Linked DNA regions of Homo sapiens: region 2 is linked to region 1. Evidence: fine-mapped expression QTL. A gene starts in region 1. The other region holds a variant in brackets. All regions are shown on one strand. Distances are between the middles of the regions.

Region 1 (2,907 bases):
AGCTAGGATGGTCTCGATCTCCTGATCTCGTGATCCGCCCGCCTTGGCCTCCCAAAGTGCTGGGATTAGAGGCGTGAGCCACCACGCCCGGCCCTGTTGATCATATATGTAGCTAATTTATTTTAATTTTGTATAGTGTTCCACCGTCTGAATGTCACAAGTTTGTTTGTTTTTGAGATAGAGTCTCGCTCTGTCGCCCAGGCTGGAGTGCAGTGGCGCCATCTCAGTTCGCTGCAACCTCCACCTCCCGAGTTCAAGCAATTCTCCCTACCTCAGCCTCCCGAGGAGCTGGGATTACAGGCGTCCGCCACCACACTCAGCTAATTTTCGTATTTTTTAGTAGAGACAGTTTTTCGCCATGTTGGCCAGGCTGGTCTTGAACTCCTGACGTCAAGTGATCTGCCCACCTCGGCCTCTCAAAGTGCTGGGATTACAGGCGTAAACCACGGCGCCTGGCCTGAATGTCACAAGTTTTAAAATCCATTCTTTTACTCATTAATAATTTATTTTCAGGTCTGTGATTTGGCTGTTTATATCCTTTCCCCATATATATAGGTATGTATATATTTTTGGAGACGGAGTTTCGCTCTTGTTGCCCAGGCTGGAGTGCAATGGTGCAGTCTCGGCTCACTGCAACCTCCGTCTCCCGGGTTCAAACAATTCTCCTGCCTGAGCCTCCCGAGTAGCTGGGATTACAGGCGCCCGCCATCATGCCAGGCTAATTTTTTGTATTTTTAGTAGAGTTGGGGTTTCACCATGTTGGCCAGGCTGGTCTCGAACTCCCGACCTCACGTGATCCACCCGCCTCGGCCTCCCAAAGTGCTGGGATTACAGGCGTGAGCCACCGCGCCCGGCCTAATTCATTTAATAATCAGCAAAAATCCTCAACATTAAAGTTTACAAGATAAAAATACCCTCTAAACCTCGATTTTAAGAAACCACTAACTTAATTTTTTGTATCCTCTTCTACTCTTCCCAACGTATCATCTTACACTCAACCCAAATCACGCTAGACAATAAATTCTGACATTGAAGCCCCCGCCAAACACCATTTCAACCATTCGGAATCTTAAACTTTTTGGAACAGTTGTTCTGATTTCGGTGACTATGATGTAAAACTGGTTGACCTGTAACATCCACCTCTGGCCCCAAACCTTTCTATCCTTTCCACCGTCCGCTCCCCGTCCGCCCGGCATCCTCGCCCAGGCTCCGCCCCGCTCCTAGGTCGGCCTCGGTCCACGCTCGGCTTTGTCCAGGGGTTTGGCCACGGACAAGCCGCGGGAGCGGAGGCCACCTGCTCACCGCAGGGCCCGGAATCCACATCCCCAGCAGAAGCAGCCTGCAGACTCCGTCCTACCCGTGCACCGCGCGCACTCACGGGGACCCCAGGACACGGGCGAGCCCGGAACCCGAGGACCCACCACGACCCCGAAACCGGGCGTCCAAACAGGCTAGCCCGCTTACCCGAGGCGGCTCCGCCATGGTCCCCGCGGTCCCGCCCGGCCCTGGCAAACCCGACCGTCTCCGGCGGCTCCGCAGGAACCTGCCCTGCTGCGCACTGACTCCCCTCCGCTCCGCCCCAACCCGACTCCCACGCACAGCCCGGGTGGCCCCCAAACGCAGCGCCGGCCGGGCGCGGTGCATGCTGGGACCCGGCGCCCGGCCGCGGCTGCCGCTCAGTCCTACAGCGCCTCCTGCGGGAGGAAGAAGCGGCGCTGCCTGAGCGTCGGTCCTCAGAGGAGGGACCCAGGGGCCCGGGCGCCCTCAGAGCAGGCCGCAGCACGCCGGTCTTTGAGGGACCCTCGGATTCCCGGGATCTGGGGAGGGAAGCGGTCAGAGACAAGCTGAGGAGCTGGCCGGAGGGGAAACGGAGGGGCAGGACATGGAGAGATCAGGGACAGGGACAGGGAGAGATCAGGGACAGGGACAGGGAGACGCGCTCCACAGAAACCCAGACTGAGAGGCAGCGAGAGGGGAACCTCCGGTGCGGTTCCTCCCAAAGCCGCCCCCGAGACAGGCTTCGTCTGTGAGGGGGTCCCGGGAATCCAGCGAGGCCGGAAAGTGGGTGGGGGGCGCGCGCTGCCCGCGGTGGCCCGGGGCATCCGTCCCGCCGGGGGCGCGGAGGCCGTGGGGGCCCCATGCTTGTCCCGCCGGGGACGCGGAGGCGGGGTCCGCCCACCAGGTCCGGTCGCCGTGGGTCTAGAGCCCTCCGGGCTCCCCGGGCGGCCACGCTCCTTCCTTAGCAGAGAACGGCCTTGGGCAGAGACCCCATGCGGAAGCCACCCCGGCCTCAGGGCCGCCTGCAGGGACTCAGGGTGGCCCAAGGCTGCGGTCGGGCACCCCGGGCCCCGGCAGGAGACAGAGACAGAGTAGGAGGAGAAGACGGAGGAGGCCATGACACAGGGCGTGAGAAACACGAGAACGCAAGAACAGGGGAGAGGTGGGGAAACCAGGAAGAGACAGAAAGGAGAGAGGGCGAGGAAGGGGGTGGCGATTGTCTCCAGAAAATCAACCTCGCATTCTGTCTTAGTCATGTCTTAGGTGTCAGGCTGAAGTAGCAAAGGAAAAGTGTGTAGTTTGGAGAGGATGTGCATAAGAAATAAAATAGTCCCTGCGTAGGCTGAGGAGCATATACGCATCTGTGTTTGCCACAGAATCGTGAAATGTACATGCACCTTACTGTTTAACGTTTTTTATTTTTACAACTGTTATACAGTACAATTTTTTTTTTTTGGAGACAAAGTCTCACTCTTGTCACCCAGGCTGGAGTGCTGTGGCGCAATCTCGGCTCACTGCAACCTCTGTCTCCTGGATTCAAGCAATTCTCCTGCCTCAGCCTCCCGAGTAGCTGGGATTACAGGCATTTGCCACCACGCCCGGCTAATTTTTGTATTTTTAGTAGAGACG
Region 2 (2,907 bases), 45 kb after region 1:
GGGTTTCACCATGTTGGCCAGGCTGGTCTTGAACTCCTGATGTCAGGTAATCCAACCCCCCTCCCCACCGGCCTCCCAAAGTGCTAGGATTACAGGTGTGAGCCACCACGCTCAGCCCGTTTTTGTCTTTTTGATATGAGATCTCATTCTGTTGCCCAGGCTGGAGTGCAGTGGTGTGATAATAGCTCACTGCAGCCTCCACCCTCTGGGCTCAAGATGCTCCCACCTCAGCCTTTCAAAGTTTGGGGACTACAGATGTGAGCCACAGCATCCCATCCATTATATTCTTAATGATCTCTCTGTACAACTTAAAGTTTATTTTTTCAACTCTGAGTACTTTTAAAGATATATTAACTAGACATTAGATAATAGGTAAAAGAGTAACACCTAATCATTTATTATTTGTTTAGAGATGGAGTCTCACTCTGTTGCCCAGGCTGTTTTTTTTCCTTCAGCACTTTTATTTTTATGTTTTTGGACAGAGTCTGGCTCTGTCGCCCAGGCGGGAATGCAGTGGCGCAATCTTGGCTCACCGCAACCTCTGCCTCCCTGGTTCAAGCAATTCTCATGCCTCAGCCTCCCAAGCAGCTGGGACTACAGGCACACACCACCACGCCCAGCTAATTTTTGTATTTTTAGTAGAGAAGGGGTTTCATCATGTTGGCCAGGCTGGTCTGGAATCCCTGGGCTCAGGTGACCTGCCCAGCTCGGCCTCCCAAAATGCTGGGATTACCACCTGACCTCATTTATTATGTTAAAGACTGTTAGAGATAATGCTGATTGCAATAACCACATTAACAAAGCCTAGTTGAAGAAGGCAGGCATTTGAAAGTGGTTTATTTTCTTATTCAGTTTTGACAGTTCTTAATTTATTCTGAATGTAAGTCCTTTGTTGGATATATGATTAGTAAATATTTTATCCTGGCCAACACGGTGAAACCCCGTCTCTACTAAAAATACCAAAAAAATAGCCGGGCGTCGTGGCAGGTGCCCGTAGTCCCAGCTACTTAGTAGGCTGAGGCAGGAGAATGGCATGAACCTGGGAGGTGGAGCTTGCAGTGTGCCGAGATCGCGCCACTGCACTCCAGCCTGGGTGACAGAGCAAGACTCTGTCTCAAAAAAAAAAAAAAAAAAAAAAGAAAGAAAGAAAAAAAGAAAGCTTTAATTTTAAGTGGGAGCTAAGCTATGAGGACGCAAAGTCATAAGAATGATATAGTGGACTATGGGGACTTGGGAAGACTGGGAGCAGGGGTGAGGGATAGAAGACTACACACTGGATGCTGCTG[C/T]GTACACTGCTTGAGTGATGGATGCACCAAATCCCAGATATCACACCTGGAGAACTTATCCATGTCGCTAAACACTACCTGTTCCCCAAAAACTATTAGAATAATAATAATAGTCCGGGTGCGGTAGCTCACACCTGTAATCCCAGCACTTTGGGAGGCTGAAGCAGACAGATCACTTGAGGTAAGCAATAGTTGAAGATCAGCCTGGCCAACATGGTGAATCCCAGTCTCCACTAAAAATTCAAAAATTAGCTGGGCATGGTGGTGCGCGCCTGTAGTCCCAGCTACTCAAGAGGCTGAGCATGAGAATCACTTGACCCCAGGAGGCGGACGTTGCAGTGAGCCAAGATCATGCCATTGCACTCCAGCCTGGGAGACGGAGACTACGTCTCCAAAAACTAATAACAATAATAATAATAATAAAGCTTTAATTTTGATTAAGTCCAATTTGTACTTTGTTGCTTTTTGTGGATTGGGGTTTTGGTATCATGTGTAAGAACTCTGCCTAATTCAAGGTCATAAATATTTGGTTTTGTTCTAGAAATTTCCTAGTTTTATGTTTTAAATTTATTTATTTATTTATTTATATGTTTATTTATATTCCCCTATTTAAAGCTTTTAATTTAAAAGTAAAATTTAATGTCAAAAATGCAAACTTGGGGAGGGCGTAAAAATCACACTCAAGGCTGCCACCTCACACTTAGAGGGTTGCAGAGCGGCCAGGCAGAGGCGCTCCTCACTTCCCAGACTGTGGGGCGGCCGAGCAGAGGCACTCCTCACTTTTTAGACAGTGCAGCTGCCAGGCAGAGGTGCGCCTCACTTCCCAGACGGGTTGGCGGCCGGGCAGAGGTGCTCCTCACTTCCCAGTTTAAATTTATATCTGTTATCTGTTTTTATTTACTTTGTGTAAAAAGTGTAAGAGTTGGGTTCAGGTTCATTTTTTTGCATATGAAAGTCCAATAGTTGAGACACAATTTGTTGAAAAACTTTTTCTATCTTCATTTAAGTGCTTTTTTTTTCTTTTTTGAGATGGAGTCTTACACTGTCACCCAGGTTGGAGTGCAGTGGCATGATCTAGGCTTACTGCAACCTCTGCCTCCTGGGTTCAAGGGATTCTCCTGTCTCAGCCTCCCATGTAGCTGGGATTACAGGCGCCCGCCACCACACCCAGCTAATTTTTTAATATTTTTAGTAGAGACAGGATTTCACTGTGTTGGCCAGGCTGGTCTCGATCTCCTGACCTCGTGATCCACCTGCCTTGGCCTCCCAAAATGCTGCGATTACAGGCGTGAGCCACCGCGCTGGGCCTTTTTTTTTTTTTTTTGAGACCGAGTTTTGCTCTTGTGGCCCAGGATGGAGTGCAATGGCATGGTCTGGGCTCACCACAACCTTCACTTTCTGGGTTCAAGTGATTCTCTTGCCTCAGCCTCCCAAGTAGCTGGGATTACAGGCACCCACCAGCATGCCTGGCTAATTTTTGTATTTTTAGCAGAGACGGGGTTTCACCATGTTAGCCAAGCTGGTCTTGAACTCCTGACCTCAGGTGATCCTCCCACCTCAGCCTCCCAAAGTGCTGGGATTACAGGTGTGAGCCACCATGCCCGGCCCATTGAATTGCTCT

Evidence for each region. PIP is the estimated chance that this variant, and not a neighbour inherited with it, causes the effect.
Region 2: its variant is fine-mapped to the expression of ZNF786 in whole blood (INTERVAL, PIP above 0.99).

Annotation. Positions count from the first base shown.
Region 1 is chr7:149,089,159-149,092,065 of GRCh38, forward strand. It overlaps ZNF786 (zinc finger protein 786), which reads right to left and starts at 1,560. Exons shown (of 4, transcript NM_152411.4): 1 at 1,465-1,560. The coding sequence starts at 1,482. RefSeq lists silencers at 1,502-1,801, 1,922-2,411.
Region 2 is chr7:149,134,274-149,137,180 of GRCh38, forward strand. It overlaps a transcript of ZNF398 not described here. Among named protein-coding and RNA genes, the nearest start is that of ZNF425, 9.4 kb to the left of the region's middle. The variant C/T (reference allele first, on the strand shown) is at 1,287.